Linked DNA regions of Homo sapiens: region 2 is linked to region 1. The links come from fine-mapping of genetic effects on gene expression. A gene starts in region 1. The other region holds a variant in brackets. All regions are shown on one strand. Distances are between the middles of the regions. Region 1 holds the start of LONP1 (lon peptidase 1, mitochondrial). Region 2 holds the start of RPL36 (ribosomal protein L36).

Region 1 (10,189 bases):
CAGCACTTTAGGAGGCCGAGGCGGGTGGATCACGAAGTCAGGAGATCGAGACCATCCTGGCTAACACGGTGAAACCCCGTCTCTACTAAAAACACAAAAAAATTAGCCGGGCGTGGTTGCGGCACCTGTAGTCCCAGCTACTCGGGAGGCTGAGGCAGGAGAATGGTGTGAACCCAGAAGGCAGAGCTTGCAGTGAGCCGAGATGGCGCCATTGCACTCCAGCCTGGGCAACAGAGCGAGACTCCGTCTCAAAAAAAAAAAAAAAAAAAAAAAATTAGCTGGGCAGGGTGGCGGGCGCCTGTTATCCCAGATACTCAGGAGGCTGAGGGCTGAGGCACTAGAATCGCTTGAACCTTGGAGGCAGAGGTTGCAGTGAGTTGAGCTCTTGCCACACTGCACTCCAGCCTGGGCGACAGAGCAAGCCTCCGTCAAAAAATAAAATTTGTATGAAACTCCTCTCCCAGAAACAGACATAAGTACACACAAAATGTAGAAATGATTTCTGAAAATTTCTTTTTTCTTTTTCTTTTTCTTTTTTTTTTTTTTGAGACAGAATCTCGCTCCGTCGCCCAGGCTGGAGTGCAGTGGCGCGATCTCAGCTCACTGCAAGCTCCACCTCCCGGGTTCACGCCATTCTCCTGCCTCAGCCTCCCGAGTAGCTGGGACTACAAGCGCCCGCCACCACACCGACTAATTTTTTGTATTTTTGGTAGAGACGAGGTTTCACCGTGTTAGCCAGGATGGTCTCGATCTCCTGACCTCGTGATCCGCCCGCCTCCACCTCCCAAAGTGCTGGGATTACAGGCGTGAGCCCCCGCGCCCGGCCAAGAATTTCTAAAGGCTCCTTCACAGACCCCAGCTGAGGAAAATTATGAAGTCCTGCAACAAGGTATTCGGGGCTCCTTAAGGGAGTGTGTGGTGACTGGAAGGATGGTATAGTTTACAGCAGAGGTGCTCAATCTTGAATATGCATCAGAATCACCGGGGTTGCGGGGGGGGGGGTCTTGATAAACCACCGTTTGCTGGGTCCCACTGCCAAGTCCCCGACTCAGTAGGTCCAGGGAACTGCATTTCTAACCAATTATAATAAATTCCAGGTGATCTTGATGCTGCTGGTCCAGGGACCATTCTTTGAGAGCCTGTGTGGGGAAATGAGAGAACTGGATATAACCCACATTTTCAGAACTCGAGACAAATCCTATTAGTAAATTTCACTGGAAAATGTTTCTCCCACTTACTAGGTATGTGTTGTTAGGCAAGTGTGTCTTTAACTTTCCTAAGTATGCTTTCGTATCTATAAAATAAGGGTGTTGGCCGGGCGCGGTGGCACACGCCTGTAAGCCCAGCACGTTGGGAGGCCGAGGCAAGTGAATCACGAGGTCAGGAGTTCGAGACCAACCTGGGCAACATGGTGGAACCCTGTCTCTACTAAAAACACAAAAAATTAGCTGCACGTGGTGGCAGGCGCCCATAATCCCAACTACTCTGGAGGCTGAGGCAGGAGAATTGCTTGAACTTGGGAGGCGGAGGTTGCAGTGAGCCGAGACCGTGACATTGTACTCCAGCCTGGGCGACGAGAACAAGACTCCATCTCAAAAAAATAAAATAAGGGTATGGCTGGGCATGGGTGGCTCATGCCTGTAATCCCAACACTTTGGGAGGCTGAGGCAGGAGGATCACTGGAGCCTAGGAGTTCAAGACCAGCCTGGGCAAAACAGTGAGACCCCATCTCTTTTTTTTTTTTTTTCCTTTGAGACAGAGTCTCCCTTTGTCACCCAGGCTGGAGTGCGATCTCAGCTCACTGCAACCTCCACCTCCTGAATTCAAGCGATTTTTCTGCCTCAGCCTCCCAAGTAGCTGGGATTACAGGCACCTGCCACCAAGCCTGGCTAATTTTTGTATTTTTAGTAGAGACGAGGTTTCATCATGTTGGCCAGGCTGGTCTGGAACTCTTGACCTCAAGTGAGTGATCTGCCCACCTCTACCTCTCAAAGTGTTGGGATTACAGGCGTGAGCCACTGCACCCAGCCAGTGAGACCCCATCTGTACAAAAAATAATAATAAATAAAATAAAATAAGGTTAAGGAATCATTATGAATCTTCCTGTAAACATCAAATGAGGCCATACACCCTAAGAATACAGCTCACAGGTCCCTACTGAATGTGACAGTTTAGTCCAGATGGGAGTTCCCTGAGGGCAGGAACGGAGTTTCAGCAACTGGTCCCCATGGCAGGTTGGAGTATGCACTAACCTAACATTTACTGAAATTTCAAAATGTGCTGGGTAAGGCTGGGCGCGGTGGCTCACGCCTGCAATCCCAGCACTTTGGGAGGCGGGGGTTGCAGTGAGCAGAGATCGCGCCACTGCACTCCACCCTGGGAAACAGAGCAAAAACTCCGGCTCCAAAAAGAAAAAGAAGTGGGAGGGCTAGGCCCGGCGTGGTGGCTCACGCCTGTAATCCCAGCACTTTGGGAGGCCGAGGCAGGCGGGTCACGAGGTCAGGAGATCGGGACCATCCTGGCTAATACGGTGAAACCCCCGTCTTTACTAAAAATACAAAAAAAAATTAGCCGGGCGTGGTGGCAGGCGCCTGTAGTCCCAGCTACTCAGGAGGCTGAGGCAGGAGAATGGCGTGAATCCGGGAGGCGGAGCTTGCAGTGAGCCGAGATCGCGCCACTGCACTGCAGCCTGGGCGACAGAGCGAGACTCCGTCTCAAAAAAAAAAAAAAAAAGAGGTAGGAGAGCTTAATATCGGGCTGGGAGGATGGGGTGGAGTAGGGTGAGCGAGGCGTCAAGTTCGATTCCTAAAAAGAGTAAAAGGGGAGCCTCAGTGAGGTTGGGGAGCAGGCCTCGGCTCCAAGATGAACCAGCACCCTCCCGACCCCCGGCAGCACCCCAGCCCCAGGAGTCCTGGCAGCCCCACCGACAGAGCTGAGCTGTGACCAGCGGTCGGAGCCACATGGTCACAGCCGCCACCAGCATCAACATCAGCATCGACTTGGGCTTCCGCCGCCACCACTGCCCCTCAACCGCCACGGGGAGTCGCTGCACAATCCGAGTACGTGCAGGCTGAAGCCCTGCGCATGCGCATCAATGAGTCCCGGGAGCGGGCCTCCGCGCACTGCAGCCCGGCGCTCCGCCTGAATCTTGAGCATGCGCAGACGAATCCCGGGAAGCCCGAATCCGCGCACCCCAAAGTGCGCTCAGAGCCTGAGTATGCGCACCCGGCCACCCGTGGCCAGTCTAGAGTCTGAGCATGCGCATGTTGTCCGCGCGCCTAAGCATGTGCACAGGCTGCTCATGAGTTCCTAAACGTTGCGTTTGCAACACTACCAGTGTTTTGTACGGGCGCTGGCGCCTGCTCACAGCCTTCCACGTGACCGGAAAAGGCCTTCAGCGCATAAAGTGGGAGACCGGAAGAGGCGGAGACGATCCGATGCTCGAACTCCGCCCCCTCTTCTCCGCGTAGGCCCAGCTCCCTGAAGCGGCTGTTTCGAGCCACGCGCCCATCGGGTACCGAGGCACGCGCCGGGCGTCACGTGCGTTTCGCGGCGAGCGGAAATGACGCGAGTTGTGTGAGCCGCCAGTATGGCCGGGCTATGGCGGCGAGCACTGGCTACGTGCGACTGTGGGGAGCGGCGCGGTGCTGGGTGCTGCGGCGGCCGATGCTGGCCGCCGCCGGGGGGCGGGTTCCCACTGCAGCAGGAGCGTGGTTGCTCCGAGGCCAGCGGACCTGCGACGCCTCTCCTCCTTGGGCACTGTGGGGCCGAGGCCCGGCAATTGGGGGCCAATGGCGGGGGTTTTGGGAAGCGAGCAGCCGCGGCGGAGGCGCATTCTCGGGGGGCGAGGACGCCTCCGAGGGCGGCGCGGAGGAAGGAGCCGGCGGCGCGGGGGGCAGCGCGGGCGCCGGGGAAGGCCCGGTCATAACGGCGCTCACGCCCATGACGATCCCCGATGTGTTTCCGCACCTGCCGCTCATCGCCATCACCCGCAACCCGGTGTTCCCGCGCTTTATCAAGATTATCGAGGTAATGGGAGTCCCCGCCTCGGCCTCAGGTTTCCCACCTGTGCAAGCAGCGGGCTGAACCGTGGGATCACTTGAGCGCCCTTGTGTTTCGCAACTTTTTCAGACATGAAGTTTCTCGAAGGGTGCAGTTCGAATCCTTGTCTGCTCACCACTAGCTTGGGAACCTTGAGCCAAAGTCCTCTCCCTTTCGGATTTCTTAGGATCCGTTAGATGAGAGGAGTTGAACCCGATGAGCCTAGGATTATCCACTTTAGAACGCCGGTCATAGAAATCCGGGGCCGGGAGGGACCTGAGTAGTGTTACGGCGCTGTTAGTTTTCTCCTTACTTGGCACGAGTTTTGTAATACCTCCTCGCCCCAGGCGCTCTGCCGTCTGGTTACGAGCCTCACTGGGATCAGAATTCATTCCTTTCTTAGACAAATACTTCTTGATTGCTTATTATTTGCCAGAGAGTGTTCTAGGTTCTGGGGATATGGCAGTGAACAAAACAGACAAAAATTTCTGCCTTTGAAGCTGGGCATGGTGGCGCGCGCTGTACTCCCAGCTACTCTGGCGGCTGAGGTGGAAGGATTGTTGGAAACCTGGAGTCCAGCCTGGTCAACATGGCGAGACCCTGTCTCTTAAAAAATAAATCTGCCTTGGAGCTTACATTTTGGCAGGATGAGACAGGCAATAAAGATGTTTAGTAACGATATTGTATTAGAAGGCAATAATTACGAGAAATAGTAGAGCATGGATGGGACAGGAGGCTTAGGAGGGTGGGAAGAGGTGGGTTATTCAGTGTGTTCTTGACCTCCTACCACGTAGCAAGTTCTGAGAATACTGTAGAGAACAAGTCATTCCGGTGGTAGAAATTAGATCATTTCAGACTAAGAGCCTTGGGGGTGGGGAGGGAGCAGGATGATGTAATAGAGAGAAAGCAGTGAGTGTAAGGAACTTGAGCTTTTACAGTAGGAAGGCCCCAAAAGCCTTCTCCCCCAGCTCCCCTTCCCTTAAAAAAAAAAACTACTGATGTGGAAAGTGGCATCTATGGGAAGGTTATCTCCTAACTGGCAGAGCAAGGTCACGCAGTGAGTCAGCCTCTGCGCTCACTCTCCAGACTCTTCTAAACAAATCTCAAGGATCTGTTGGGAAGGGAAAGGCCATTTCAGAGGGGCAGCAGCCAGTAGAGAGGGGACAGAGGGAGCTTCTCCAACGCTGCTCCAAGATTTTTTTTTTTTTTTTTTTGAGACCAAGTTGCACTCTGTCATCTAGGCTAAAGTGCAGTGGCGCGATTTCAGCTCACTGCAACCTCTGCCTCCCGGGTTCAAGTGATTCTCCTGCCTCAGCCCCCTGAGTAGCTGGGATTACAGGCGCCCGCCACCGTGGCTGGCTAATTTTTCTATTTTTAGAAGAGACAGGGTTTCACCATGTTGCCCACGCTCGTCTCGAACTCCTGACCTCAAGTGATTCACCCGCCTCAGCCTCCCAAAGTGCTGGGATTGCAGGTGCGAGTCACTGCGCCCGGCCCCAAGGCCTTTCCTTGATGTTGAGTACTGGTTACTGATGCAGGCCCCCAGAGCAAGACCTTGTGGGGTCCTATCCTAGCTCCATAACCTTCAGCAAGTTATTCCTTTGGCTTCCCTCTTCTCATCTGTGACCTGGACATATTAGTGTCTTATTAGAGTTGTTGTGGGATTTAAATGAGGCCATGTGGGCTGGGCACGGTGTCTCACATGTTTAATCCCAGCACTTTGGGAGGCTGAGGCAGGAGCATAATTTGAAACCAGTATGGTCAACATAGACCCTGTCTCTACAAAAAAAAAAAAAAAAAGAAAGAAAGAAAAGCCGGGCACAGTGGCATGCACCTGTCTTCCCAGCTACTTGGAAGGCTGAGGCAGGAGGATCACTTGAAACTGGGAGATCAAGGCTGCAGTGAGCCATGGTGTCACCACTGCACTGCAGCCTGGGCAACAGAATGAGGCCCTGCCTCAGCAATAACGTGATGCTGTTTCCTCTTTGGTGTACTTCTGACATTTCAGGACTCTGCCCCGGAGGCCTTTTTCCCATCCTTGACTTCACCCCTGGCAGTTCTCTTTACCCTCCCAGGTTTCTGGGCCCAGGATGGTGTTCATCAGGCCTGGTCCCCTCCGTTCTGCAGAGCGACAGATGCCCCTTGCTCCCGGTGCCTGAGCAGAGAGATGATTCTTCTAAGAGAGTTCAGACGGCCCACGTGGAGCTAGCCAGGAGAGTTAAATGAGTGGCTGCAGATAGTATTTGGGAGACTGGCAGGTGGTTCTCATTGTATTTCTGGTTGATGATGCATTGTAAATCATAAAAATGGATCCTGCCAAGGCCAGGAGGCAGATGCCAAGGATGCAGCTATCAGCTGTTGGCAGAGGGGAAATTGGGAGGCAACTTCTTTGGGACCCAATAAATGTTTCTGAAATTGTTAGCAAAGCTTGATTTACTCTTCAGTTTGTACTTGACTTGTCTGGCCAACTTGCTCTAGAAGCTTCTCTCCTATTAGCAACTTTTGAGTAAGGAACAATGGCTCTTAATTTTTGGTGGGTATTAAAGAATAAATCATAAGTGTTAGAAGTATTAGTTTCTTTTAAAAACTAACTTCGTGGGCTGGGCGCGGTGGCTCACGCCTGCAATCCCAGCACTTTGGGAGGCTGAGGTGGGCGGATCACGAGGTCAGGAGATCGAGACCATACTGGCTAACAAGGTGAAACCCCGTCTCTACTAAAAATACAAAAAAATTAGCCTGGAGTGGTGGTGGGCGCCCGTAGTCCCAGCTACTCGGGAGGCTGAGGCAGGAGAATGGTGTGAACCCAGGAGGCGGAGCTTGCAGTGAGCTGAGATCGCTCCACTGCGCTCTAGCCTGGGCGACAGAGCAAGACTCTGTCTTAAAAAAAAATTGCTTCCCTCCTTTGTTCAGGTGTGCTCTGCTCTCGCCATTGTTCCATCTGCGAGGAGCACCCTTTCTTCAGAAAGTAAAATTGTCTTGCTAAGAAAACTTTTTGTCCAAATGCTAATTTTTCCTTACAGTACAGAGGTACAAGCGTTCTGTCTCTAAACAAACATTTTACTTATAACAGTGGGTCACACACCCTCCTGTCAGATGTTACTGACTTTTTTTTTTCTGGGAACAGAAAAAAAAAAAATTATGTATCTATAGTGTCAGGAATTTCTGGACCACAAGTTAAGAGCCTGTGTTAGGGAGTGAGTCAAAACACTGGCTCTCAAAGGATGGTTGTGGACCAGCAGCATCGGCATCATGTGATGCTCTTTTGTTTGAAATGCAGATTTTTGGACCCACCCTAGAACTGAATCAAAAACTCCAAGGGTGGGGCCCAGCAGTGAGCTGCTTAAAGTCCTTCAGGTCATCCTGGTGCCTGCAAAAGTTTGAGGGCCATTACTATATATATATATATATATATATATATATATATATATATATGTATATTTTAACTTTATTATATAATAAAGAATTAAAAACTTCAAAAAGAAAATAGAGATGGGGTCTCACTGTGTTACCCAGGCTGGTCTCAAACTCCTGGGCTCAAGCGATCCTCCCACCTCAGCCCCGCAAAGTGCTGGGATTACAGGCATGAGCTACCATTACCAGGCTAGCCAGGCCATTACCTTTAATCAGGGTCTGTCCAGTGAATTAACAAAGGCTTGAAAGAAATCAGGTGAGCTCCTTGCGCCTTCAAATGCTTCTTAGAAGACATCATTAGCCCTGAACCTGCCGTTGAGAATGTGCTGTGATCCTGGGGGTCTTGATCATTAATGAACAGCATATGATGTGATAAGGAAGTAACTGTCAATGAAAATTGGAGGAACCAGGCATGGTGGCTCATGGCGAAACTCCGTCTCTACTAATAATACAAAAATTAGCGAGTGCAGTGGCGTGTGCTTGTAACCCCAGCTATGTGGTAGGATGAGTTGGAAGAATCGCTTGAACCTGGGAGGTGGAGGTTGCAGTGAGCCGAGATTGCACCAGTGCACTCCAGCCTGGGTGGCAGAGTGAAACTTTCTTTTTTTTTTTTTTTTTTTTTTTTTTTTTTTTTTTTATGAGACAGAGTCTCACTCTGTCGCCCAGGCTGGAGTGCAGTGGCGTGATCTTGGCTCACTGCATGCTCCGCCTCCCGGGTTCACGCCATTCTCCTGCCTCAGCCTCCCGAGTAGCTGGGACTACAGGTGCCCGCCACCACGCCCGGCTAATTTTTGTATTTTTAGTAGAGACGGGGTTTCACCGTGTTAGCCAGGATGGTCTCGATCTCCTGACCTTGTGATCTGCCCGCCTCGGCCTCCCAAAGTGCTGGGATTACAGGCGTGAGCCACCGCGCCCAGCCTGAAACTTTATTAAAAAAAAAAAAAAAAGGAAGTTATCAATCTCTGGAGTGGGTCACATTTAAATTACTTATGTTTATTCTGACATTAATAAAAGCAGAATGGTTTTGATTTTCAAACCAAGACAGTTTGCCCTGGACATCCCCTTTGAAGCTGGATGTTAAATCAATTTCTGGGTTCTGACCATTCGTCTACTTTGAATTTCCTTTGGGAGTGGGGAAACCGCTAAGAAGAATCCAGCTGGTCAGTTCTGCTCACTGTATTCACCACCACAGCCTCCTGGCCTCCAGCACTTTTTTTTTTTTTTTTTTTTTTTTGTTTAGGCGTTCCCAAACCATGTTGATTAGTATCCAGGATGCGGATCAGCATGTCCCCAGAGAATAATCTACACAGCGTTAGAGCGGCTCTGCTGTCAAAAAATGTCAGCTACAAAAGCTACCCTGGGAGGCCGGGCGTGGTAGTTTACGCCTATAATCCCAGCACTTTGGGAGGCTGAGGTGGGTGGATCACGAGGTCAGGAGTTAAAGACCATCCTGGCCAAGATGGTGAAACCCCATCTCTACTAAAAATACAAAACAATCAGCCGGACCTGGTGGCGGGCGCCTGTAATCCCAGCTACTCAGGAGGCTGAGGCAGAGAATTGCTTGATCCCGGGAGGCGGAGGTTGCAGTGAGCTGAGATCATGCCACTGCACTCCAGCCTGGGTGACAGAGCGAGACTCCGTCTCAGAAAAAAAAAAAAAAAAGAAAAGCTACCCTGTGCTGCGTTTGGTGGCTCACGCCTATAATCCCGGCATTTTGGGAGGCTGAGGTGGGTGGATCACCTGAGGTCAGGAGTTCGAGACCAACCTGGCCAATATGGTGAAACCCCATCTCTACTAAAAATAAAAAAATTAGCCAGGTGTGGTGGTGCATGCCTGTAATCCCAGCTACTCAGGAGGCTGAGGCAGGAGAATCCCTTGAACTCAGTGGGGGTGGAGGTTGCAGTGAGCTGAGATCACGCCATTACATTCCAGCCAGGGCAACAGAATGAGACTCTGTCTCAAAAAAAAAATCTACTCTGCATTTCACTTTGGGGTCATTGTCATGCTAGGTTAAAAATAAGAAGTTGGTTGAGCTGCTGAGAAGGAAAGTTCGTCTCGCCCAGCCTTATGTCGGCGTCTTTCTAAAGAGAGATGACAGGTAAGTGTGATTTTTCCTTCATTCCCTTGTTGACGGTGCCCTAGAGTCCAGCTCACCACAAGTCCTACTCTGTACTTTGCACCTTTGACCCCTGACCCCGAGGAAACCAGGGAAGACCTCCAGAATAAAGGCCAGAAGCCACGCAGGCTACCTTTTCAGCCTGGGCTGAGAACTCAGCTTGTAGTACTAAACTTCATGCATTGTTAAGATACGGGGGAAATTAACTTCAGGGACTCTTAGTGATGAAATGCTCCATGAGGCTACCTGAAAGTCGAGCTAGCTGCTCGGAGATGTGGCTCCATGTAGAAATGAGTTCCATGGGCCGGGCGTGGGGTCGCACACCTGTAATCCCAGCACTTTGGGAGGCTGAGGCATGTGGATCACCTGAGGTCAGGAGTTCCAAAGCAGTCTGGCTGACATGATGAAACCTCGTCTTTACTAAAAATACAAAACATTAGCCAGGCGTGGTGGCAGGTACCTGTAATCCCAGCTACTCAGGAGGCTGAGGAAGGAGAATCGGTTGAACCTAGTAAGTGGAGGTTGCAGTGAGCTGAGATTACACCATTGCTCTCCAGCCTGGGCAACAAGAGCGAAACTCCATCTCAAGAAAAAAAGAGTTCCATGCATGCATTCGAAGCA
Region 2 (10,189 bases), 30 kb after region 1:
CCAGATGGGCCTTGGGGCCACCACGCACAAAGGAGGCGAGAGGGCAAAGGGGATGGTGCGGGAGGGGCTGGAGAAGGGCTTGTGTCTGTCTGCAGGGCAGCGGCAGCTGGGCCTTGTAGCCCTGGGCGTGTCCTCTGTGGCTGGCAGCTGCTGGGGGCTGCCCTGTGGGGCGTACAGAGCCAGGAACCCGCAACGCAGCAAACGTAGAGGCCAGCGTTGGCTCACGATGGGACACCAACCCCTGCCCAGGGGCACCAAGATGCTAAACTGGGGCAGGAGCGGTCAGAGTGGCCCCGAGGGGTGGAGTGAGCACCGGCCTGGGCTCCGAGGCCTCCCGTGTTCACAGCTCCACACCTGTTTCAGGAGGCTCCACGCTGTTTGTGGAGACATCCCTGAGACGGCCACAGGACAAGGATGCCAAGGGTGACAAGGATGGCAGCCTGGAGGTGACAGGCCAGCTGGGGGAGGTGATGAAGGAGAGCGCCCGCATAGCCTACACCTTCGCCAGAGCCTTCCTCATGCAGCACGCCCCCGCCAATGACTACCTGGTGACCTCACACATCCACCTGCATGTGCCCGAGGTGACCGCGCCATCCGCTCCCACCTGCTCCCGCCCAGTCCCTGGGCTGCTGGCCACCTGCTCACCCACTATCCCCACATGCCTCCACAGGGCGCCACCCCCAAGGACGGCCCAAGCGCAGGCTGCACCATCGTCACGGCCCTGCTGTCCCTGGCCATGGGCAGGCCTGTCCGGCAGAATCTGGCCATGACTGGCGAAGTCTCCCTCACGGGCAAGATCCTGCCTGTTGGTGGCATCAAGGAGAAGACCATTGCGGTGAGTGTCCCTGTACCCACCCCACAGCACTGGCAGGGCCCACACCACCACGGGACAGGCCCAGTCCCCGCCATGCAACCTCTGCCTGGGCCAAGGAGAGGGAAGCCCTGGGCTTTGGAAGCAGGTCTCTCTGGCCTGGAGCTGGCCTTAAGCTCACCGCCCTAGCTGCCTTCTCCACAGCAAGTCTTGTGGAGAACATTCTGAGCCTCCACTGGCTTCCCCAGTAGGATTGGGGGGGTGGCTCCTGCTTCTCTTCCCAGGCAGCCCAGCGCCAAGGGAGAGGCTAGAGATGGGGACGACGTTTAGGATTACTGGTGGCGGGGGTGTTTGGAGCCCCTGGCCAGGGGCTGGCCTCTTCCAAGGGTGCTGAGCAGGTTGGAGCGCCACTGTCCCCACTCTTCCCTCCCATCCCTGCCTGTCCCCAGACTGGACCACACTTGCCATGTGTCTAGGAAGCCTGGTGCAGTCAGTCAGGAGATGCCACCACGAGGGAGGCATGGTCAAGTGGCTGTGACCACCTTGAATTGGACACCAGGCACAGACTTCCTAGATGATAAAATGGTGGAGGCAAATTGGGAGGCTCACTGTCCATGGAGTCAGTGTGCGGTGACAGTGGGAACTGCTGTCCTTTCAAGGGGCTGTGGTGGGGCTGTGCCTGGCATCTACTCCAGATATGTGTAGCCTCCGGAGGTGAGGGGGGTGACGCAGGGCCTGGGGGCAGAGATGCAGATGCTCACAGGAACCCTGTTCAGGCCCCAGACACTGCCTGACCTCTGGATGTGAGGCCGTGGGTGTGTGGCTCATCCAGAGCCCTGAGACTGCTCCCACCGCACGGCCAGACTTCCTAGATAAGGGGGTGGGGAGGCCCTGGCTCCTGCTCTCAGGCTGTTGGAGCCAAGGCCAGTGGTTTTGCCTTGAGCCTGTTTCCCCGTGGGAGACGGGGACCCTGGTGGGTTTTGGGACTTACTGCTTAGAACCCGGCATCACTGTGTATCGCCGGTCCCCAGGAAGCCCTTTCGTTCCTGGAGGTTAGCACACCTGCTGCCCTCCCACAGGCCCAGGCAGGGCTGACCCTGACTCTGCCCCCAGGCCAAGCGCGCAGGGGTGACGTGCATCGTCCTGCCAGCCGAGAACAAGAAGGACTTCTACGACCTGGCAGCCTTCATCACCGAGGGCCTGGAGGTGCACTTCGTGGAACACTACCGGGAGATCTTCGACATCGCCTTCCCGGACGAGCAGGCAGAGGCGCTGGCCGTGGAACGGTGACGGCCACCCCGGGACTGCAGGCGGCGGATGTCAGGCCCTGTCTGGGCCAGAACTGAGCGCTGTGGGGAGCGCGCCCGGACCTGGCAGTGGAGCCACCGAGCGAGCAGCTCGGTCCAGTGACCCAGATCCCAGGGACCTCAGTCGGCTTAATCAGAGTGTGGCATAGAAGCTATTTAATGATTAAAGTCATTTGCAGTACGGCGGCTTCCTCACCTGCTGCCCCGGGAAGGGTGGGCGGGCCACGGCTTTTGATTCACGACCAGGCAGCACCCGGAGAGGGTGTGGCTCAGAGCGGGCACCAGACAGGGGACTGCGGGCCCCCGACACACCCACACCCACCCACGGACAGCAGGAGAGCCAGGGCTTCTGTCAAGCTGTTCTTTATTTCAGGGAGAGGGCAGGGGAGGGGCTCAGTCTTTCTTGGCAGCAGCTTTCCTCATGGCGGCCAGTACGTTGCTCAGCTCCTCCCGCTTCCTCTTGGCGCGGATGTGCGTCCCCACCTGCCAGGGACGAGGCCGCCGTCAGCCCGGCCCTGACTCCCATCCCACCCCGCCCCTCGGCCGGCAGCGCCCACCTACCCTTTTCTTGATAAATTTGAGGGCCCGTTTGTCCTTGGAGACCTTCAGTAACTCCATGGCGCGCCGCTCGTACGGGGCAAAGCCACACACCTCCCGAATCATGTCCCGCACGAACTTGGTGTGTTTGGTCAGACGCTAGGGGGGAAAGGGGCGGCCGTCAGGGTAGGGGGATCCCTGCATTCTAGTTAAGCAGCTTCTCTCGCGCTGCCGCGATTTCCCTGGCTACTTCCTCCCCTCTGTGGGTAGCTGTGAGAACCAAGGTATTAACGCCTAGCGCTTTTCGCCGCGCCCGGAGCAGCTCCCATCCTCCCTAAGTCCCAGTCTCCGCAACACTGGCAGGACGCACCTGGAGTCTGGGCTGCCTGCTGAATAAAGGCGCCCAATACACTGACACACCTGAAATCCCTCAACCTCACACACCGCAACCTCGGGCCAGCTCCATGAGCGAACTCCTTACTCCTGCGTCAGAACCCCAAACCCGCTGCCCGCTTAATAAAGGCGCCCAATACACTGACACACCTGAAATCCCTCAACCTCACACACCGCAACCTCGGGCCAGCTCCATGAGCGAACTCCTACTCCTGCGTCAGAACCCCAAACCCGCTGCCCCGCGCCGCTCTCAAGGTGCTCCCTCTGCCCCAGCGTGGATTGCACGGTTGGGAAAAACCCAGATGGGTGCCCGCCTTCGAGCACCAGGCAGGAAGTCCCACTCCCCCACCCCATCTCTTCCATTCAAGCCCCCCTTAGTTCTGCGCCCGAACGCGCGTTCTTTCAGGTCGAGAGCCTTTGCCCAAGCCATGCCCTCCGCCCTCCAAGAAACCCCCGACAACCTCCGCGCGGCACCCGCACTCACCCCGCGGCGTCGGCTGTGCCTGGGCTTGCTCACGTTCTTGGTCACTTTGTGGCCCTTGTTGAGGCCCACGGCCATAGGGTAGCGTAGGGCCATGGCTGCGGACAGCGACGGGGAGAA[G/A]GGGCGGAGGTGAGTACCGGCTCAGTTCCCGAGGCCCAGAGCCCCGCGTCCCGGCTCCTTCAGCCTCGCTCGCCACAACCAACCATCCTCCAACCTGCACAGAGGACCCGGGAGTCCGGATGGCGGCGGATACCGGCAGTGCGGGAAACCACTTACCTGCTGCTCTCCAGAGACGGCCGTGGCGGAAGGGCTGGCGCCGCGCGGAACTCCGGGATATCTACTCGGCTCAGGAGGCGCAGGCCAGAGAGGCAAGAACGGCACGCGCTCCCCCTGGCGGCTGGAGTCTTCCCCGCCGTTGCGCTGAGCATGCGCGACCGAGCTCCCTGAGCATGCGCGTTTACTCCTGCGAGCCCGGGAGCTGGAGTCGGAACCAGTGGAGGTGGCTATGGCTGCTCTCCTCCCTCTGCCTGTGAAATGAGTTCGAATCCCAACTCCGCCTATTTCGGGCCGACCCTGCATCGACGACATCACCTCTCAGAATTTCTTCACTTGTAGAGCGGGAATAATAATACCAAACTGTATGAACTGTTAAAACGCCCATTAGGCCGGGCGCGGTGGCTCACGCCTGTAATCTCAGCACTTTGGGAGGTCGAGGCATGTGGATCACGAGGTCAGGAGCTCGAGACCAGCCTAATACGGTGAAACCCCGTCTCTACTAAAAATACAAAAAATTAGCCAGGCGTGGTGGTGGGCACCTGTAGTCCCAGCTACTCGGGAGGCCGAGGCAGGAGAATGGCGTGAACCCAGGAGGCAGAGCTTGCAGTGAGCCGAGATCGTGCCACTGCACTCCAGCCTGGGCGACAGAGCAAGACTCCGTCTCAATAAATAAATAAATAAATAAATAAATAAATAAATAGCCAGGCGTGGTGGCATGCTCCTGTAATCCCAGCTACGCAGGAGGCTGAGGCAGGAGAATTGCTTGAGCCCAAGAGGCAGAGGTTGCAGTGAGCCGAGATCGCACCACTGCACTCCAGCCTGGGCGACAGAGCGAAACTCCATTTAAAAAAAAAGGTATTGGTTTTGTTATCAATTGGTCAAGCTCTAGACTAGGTCTGAATACAGCAACGTGTAATAGTGCCCCTTGCGGACATCTGATGTAATTTAGGTGGTGTAGGGACGGGACGCTAAATAACTGAATCGGGTGGCAGAAACACACAAGTTTCCAGTTTTTCTCCTTTAATGCTACTAATATACAAGAAGAGAGTCTCAATTTAGGGCTGCTCTAATTAGGGTTAGCGCTTTCATGTTTTTTCCAGACAGGGTCTTGCTCTGTCGCCCAGGCTAGAGTGCACTGCTGTAATCATAGCTTATTGTAGCCTTGACTTCCAGGGCTCAAGTGATCCTCCTGCCTTAGCCTCCTTAGCTGGGACCACAGGCACATGCCACCACGCCTGGCTAATTTTTTAATTAAAATATTTGTTTGTGGCCGGGTGCAGTGGCTGACACCTGTAATCCCAGCACTTTGAGAGGCCGAGACAGGGGGATCACCTAAGGCTAGGAGTTCGAGACCAGCCTGGCCGACATGGTAAAACCCCGTCTCTACTAAAAATACAAAAAGTCAGGCGTTGTGACCCACACCTGTAATCTGAACTATTTGGGAGGCTGAGGCACAAGAATCGCTTGAACCCCGGAGGCAGAGGTTGCAGTGAGCCTAGATCGCACCACTGCACTCCAGCCTGGGCGATAGAGTGAGACTCCGTCTAATAAATAAATAAATAAAGACAGGGTTTCACCATGTTGGCCAGGCTGGTCTCAAACTCCTGACCTCAAGTGATCTGCCCACCTTGACCTCTCAAAGTGCTGGGATTATAGGCGTGAGCCACTGCTCCTGGCCCTCTCAGCCTCCATTTCCCCACCTGTGAAATGGGATTGAGAGTCAAGGCCCCTGATACACACACCCCCTCCCGCTGCCCGCTGGCTGCTAGCAAATTGGAATTACCAAGGAATTTGAACAACAGATATGCAAGAGAAGAAGAGTTTTTATTCTCGAACAAGAGGCTGGGTCCAGCTCAGAACACACTCTTTCCCTCCTCCTCCCGCTCAGACCCTGCCACCAGGTAGACGAACAGTGTAGACGCCCCTGCAGGTGTGAAGAGTACCAGAGACCCCAGCTAGGGGAAGCTGGCAGGAGTTGGGGGGGTTCCTCCCAGATGGAATGAATGGAAAGAATAAATCAGGGACTTAAAGGCGCAGGCAGGAGATGGAGAGGGGTCCATGGGTGGCTCAAGGGTGGCGTGGCCTCTCTGAGCCTTAGTTTCCTCATCTGCAAAATGGAAGCAGTCACGTCATCAATCATGGCCAAACAGGTGAGGCCTTGCAAGTCCCCGACAAAGGCGCCTAACACGGGGCACCTGCACCTCCCAAGCCGTGACTGGTTCCAGGTGCCCGTCGTTTTTCTCGGTTTTGCTTTTCTGTCTTGATGACTTCATCTTGGGCTGTGGCCACCCTCTCAGGGGTGTCTCTGTGAGTGTTCTGGCTCCAGGGACAGTTGGAGGGAGGAACATTGCCGTCTGGGACTGGAGGGGCACCCCCCGGTGCTCAGGCTGCCGCGGCCGTGACGTTGAGCTCCTGGCGGATAAACCAGGCCCGCGGGCGCGGTAGCCAGCGCCGGAGCAAGCACAGCAGGCGGAAACGCCACGGGTAGAAGACGCCGGCCGCGCGCGTGGCGCCGCCGCGGATCACGGCCAGGGCTGCCTTGGGCCCCGGGGCCGCCTTGACCCTCGTGACTCCCCTGGGGACAGGAGGGCACGGTGGGGACTGCGGCTGGGGCTGGGCCATGGCCCCCAGCCCAGCCCCCAGCTTGTCCGGGCCTCACCTGACTGCCTCGGCGGCGGAGGCGCGATCTCGGAGGCCCAGGACGCACATGGTGATGGCCACGTTCACGTCCTGCACGTCCAGCTCCCGCCGCAGGGAGCCGAAGAAGCCGTCCAGCGCAAACTTGGCCGCCGAGTAGGGAGTGGAGAACGACGTGGGCACGCGGCCTGGGGGCGCGGACGGCAGCGGCTGAGTGGCTCCCCCTCGTCCGGGAAGCCTGCCCAGACCCTCCAGGCTCACCCGCATCGAGCTCCCCACTCCCCGTCCCGCAGAGCCGGGGCCGGGTGCACGCACCGAGCAGCGAGGACACCACCACCAGGGAGCCCTTGCTGTCCGTCAGGCTGGGCAGCGCCCGCGACGTCAGTTGCACGTAGCTCACAAAGTTTACCTGCAGGCGGCACTCGCGAGTCACCGGCAGAGGCGGAGCCCAGGGGCAGGGCGGGGCCAGAAACCCAGAGGGCGGGGCCAGGGCCGGGTCAGAGACGGGGCCAGAAACCCGGAAGGCGGGTCCGAGGGCGGGGTCAAGGCCGGAGCAGGGGCTTGGGCTAGGAGGGGCGTGGCTGGGGCGGGACGGGTGGAGAGCCCTCCCTGGAGAAGGCAGAACCCGGACCGCGAAGGGAACGGACCACCGGTCCCTGAGATAGAGGGGCGGGCCGGGGCCGCGGAGGAGCGGAGCACCTGCATGAGCCAGCGAGTTGCCTGGGGGCTGCGGGCTCGCGTGCCGGCCGGGGCGCCGCCGATGTGGTTCAGCACGAGGTAGTCCAGCCCGCCTGGCCCAGAAACGCCGGTCAGCCCCGGAGGCCCCTCCCCAAGGAAACGATCAAACCCCGCCCCCGAGCTTAGCTCCACCCAGAGCGCTGGTCCAGCGAGCTCCGCCCCAGGTAACTCCCACTACGATCAAAGACACCCAGCCTTGGCCTTACACCCTGGATCTAGCAAGGTTTGGTTCCCATTCAACGAGGCCCCGTTCAGAGCTCTTCCCCCAGACGCAATGAGACTCCACCCCGCCCACGCCCCCAGTCCCCATTTGTCTCCGCCCTGAGACACCTGTTACTGTGGCCACACCCACAGCCCAATTCTGGTCCTGTCCCTAAGGCCTAGGCCACGGTCCCGGACTCCAGGCTTCAGGCCCAGCCCCTCACCCAGCTTGTCCAGCGCAAACTGCACCACGCTCTCGGGCGCCTCAGGGGAGGCCATGTCCGCCGCGATGTAGAAGACCTTGGGGGCGCCCAGCTTCCGGCAGTTCCCTACCACCTGGGGGGGGCCAGAGCTGCCCGTGGGCCTCTCCTCTACAGCAGCGCTTCCCCCTCCACCGCACCTGCTGGCCATAGGGAGGCCCCCGCCTGAAAACCCCCCCCTACTCTGAGCCTCGGGACCCATTCAACATCATTCCCAAAAATTTACCACTGCTTGAGGGGCGCAAAGTGGAGGCCCGCGGGCCAGAATGCTGGCCAATTTGGTGGTTAGTCAATCACCAACATCTAAAACAGGACATTTCATCTACAATTTCCTGATTGCTAGCTTCTCTTGAAATATTGAAAGGTTTGTGCCCAAGAGCCATACCCTTCCTTGAAGTAGCAATGGACTGCTTGTTGCTAAGAAGTGCCCATCCTTCCCTTCGAGTTTAAGAACCCTGGCTATCAGCACAGGCCTGGACACTCAATACTCTCATTTGTTAAGAAACACTGCATCTTCTAGTCACCGTCTCACTGCATTGGCACAACATCCTAACCCATGAGAAGGTGGGTTTTTTTGTTTGTTTGTTTGAGACAGAGTCTCACTTTGTTGCCCAGGCTGGAGTGCAGTAGTGCGATCTCGGCTCACTGCAACCTCTGCCTCCGGGGTTCAAGTGATTCTCCTGACTCAGCCTCCCATGTAGCTGGGACTACATGCTCGCGCCACCATGCCCTAATTTTTTTTTTTCTTTTTTTTGAGATGGAGTATCGCTCTGTCACCCAGGCTGGAGTGCAGTGGCGCGATCTCAGCTCACTGCAACCTCCACCTCCCGGGTTCCAGCAATTCTCCCGCCTCAGCCTCCCCAGTAGCTGGGATTACAGGTGCCTGACACCACGCCGGCTAATTTTTTATTTATTTATTTTATTTTTATTTTTTGTATTTTTAGTAGAGACAGGGTTTCACCATGTTGGCCAGGCTGGTTTTGAACTCCTGACCTCAAGTGATCCATCCGCCTTGGCCTCCCAAAGTGCTAGGATTACAGGCATGAGCCACCATGCCTGGCCTAATTTTTGTCTTCTTAGTAGAGACCAGGTTTCGCCATGTTGGCCAGGCTGGTCTTGAACTCCTGACCTCAGGTGATCCACTTTCCTCGGCCTCCCAAAGTGCTGACTACAAGCGTGAGCCACCGTGCCTGGCCAGAAAGTGGTTTTATTGTCCCCGTTTTGCAAATGAGGAAACTGAGAGGCTCAGAGAGGTTAGGCGACTTGCCCAAGGTCACACGGGAAGCCTGGATCATTGCAGGGATTAAACCCAGGCTCTCTTCCCACCCCCCATGAGCACCCCCACCATTCATCTAGACATGGGGTGGCTCACCTTCTGCAGGAGAGCCTCAGTGTGGGCAGTGAGCACCAGGTGGGAGCCCAGACGCGCGTAGTGATAGGCCAGCTCCTCACCAACACCAGCGTTGGCCCCTGTCAGCAGCACTCGCGCTCCCTGGAGGCTGGCTGGCCATAGCCGGGGTGGTCACTCTGGGCGGAGGACAGGACAGCTGGCCCGGTTTCTCCCTCCCTCAACCCCAGGTGCTCACCTGGGTCGAAGTTGTCATCCCAATAATAGGCGAAGAACAGGGCCCCCAGCCCTGTGAGGAGAAGCACCTTCATGGTCCTGTGTGGGCCTGCAGAGGGACAGGGGACAGAGGTGGCCGGCACAGGCCTGGCCCACAGCCACCCGTGTTTGGTGGGTGTTTGGTGATGCCACCGCCTTGGATCCACGCCTTCCTATCCACCTCCACAGCCACCACCTGTCCAGGCCACCACGGTGGCTCCATGAACCACCGCGGCTCCATGAACCACCGCACCTGCACCCTCCCCCTCCACCCTTCTCAGCCCTCTCCATCTGCACACCTTGCCTCTCCTGGACTGAAAATCCTTCCTGTTCCAGTTAGAATAAAAACCAGACTCCTTGGTGGCTACAAACGCCCTGTGTGGACCTGTCCTCCTTGCTCACTCCGCTCCACTAAAACAGACCCTTCGCTGTTCCTTGAAACCAGCCAGTCACTATCCTGCCTCAGGGCCTTCTCGTGGGCTGTTCCTACTGCCTAGAATGCTGTTCCCGGATATAACCCAATGGCTTGCTCTCTCACTTCTTTCAAGTCTCAGTGCAAAAGTGACCTCCTTCAGCTGGATGTGGTGGCTCATGCCTGGAATCCCAGCACTTTGGGAGGCTGAGGCGGGCAAATCACTTGAGATCAGGAGTTCGAGACCAGCCTGGCCAACATGGTGAAACCCCATCTCTATTAAAAATACAAAAATTAGCCGGGCGCGGTGGCAGGCGCCTGTAATCCCAGCTACTCAGGGGGCTGAGGCACGCACATGCCTGTAATCCAGATATTTGGGAGGCTGAGGCAGGAGAATCGCTTGAACCTGGGAGGCAGAAGTTGTAGTGTGCCGAGATTTGCCATTGCACTCCAGCCTAGGCAACAAGAGCGAAACTCCGTATCAAAAACAAACAAACAAACAAAAAAAGAACAGTGACCTCCTTCAAGTGAGG

What was found. PIP is the estimated chance that this variant, and not a neighbour inherited with it, causes the effect.
Region 2: its variant is fine-mapped to the expression of LONP1 in whole blood (TOPMed, PIP 0.94).

The regions. Positions count from the first base shown.
Region 1 is chr19:5,713,544-5,723,732 of GRCh38, reverse strand. LONP1 (lon peptidase 1, mitochondrial) reads left to right here and starts at 3,587. Exons shown (of 18, transcript NM_004793.4): 1 at 3,587-4,029; 2 at 9,462-9,550. The coding sequence starts at 3,601. CATSPERD (catsper channel auxiliary subunit delta) reads right to left here and starts at 3,096. Exons shown (of 22, transcript NM_152784.4): 1 at 2,925-3,096. The coding sequence starts at 2,995. RefSeq lists enhancers at 3,338-3,437, 3,390-3,906, 4,940-5,455, 5,456-5,972 and silencers at 3,718-3,767, 3,898-3,977.
Region 2 is chr19:5,683,944-5,694,132 of GRCh38, reverse strand. HSD11B1L (hydroxysteroid 11-beta dehydrogenase 1 like) reads right to left here. Exons shown (of 8, transcript NM_198706.3): 2 at 9,228-9,314; 3 at 9,014-9,144; 4 at 7,606-7,717; 5 at 7,142-7,233; 6 at 6,758-6,851; 7 at 6,465-6,630; 8 at 5,611-6,380. The coding sequence starts at 9,300. The coding sequence ends at 6,188. It overlaps RPL36 (ribosomal protein L36), which reads right to left and starts at 3,838. Exons shown (of 4, transcript NM_033643.3): 1 at 3,806-3,838; 2 at 3,533-3,627; 3 at 2,680-2,814; 4 at 2,258-2,601. The coding sequence starts at 3,625. The coding sequence ends at 2,512. It overlaps LONP1 (lon peptidase 1, mitochondrial), which reads left to right. Exons shown (of 18, transcript NM_004793.4): 16 at 364-581; 17 at 671-835; 18 at 1,925-2,299. The coding sequence ends at 2,101. RefSeq lists enhancers at 2,137-2,186, 2,247-2,296, 2,484-3,009, 3,010-3,535, 3,536-4,061 and 2 more and silencers at 2,727-2,776, 6,595-6,654, 6,895-7,044, 7,115-7,374. The variant G/A (reference allele first, on the strand shown) is at 3,650.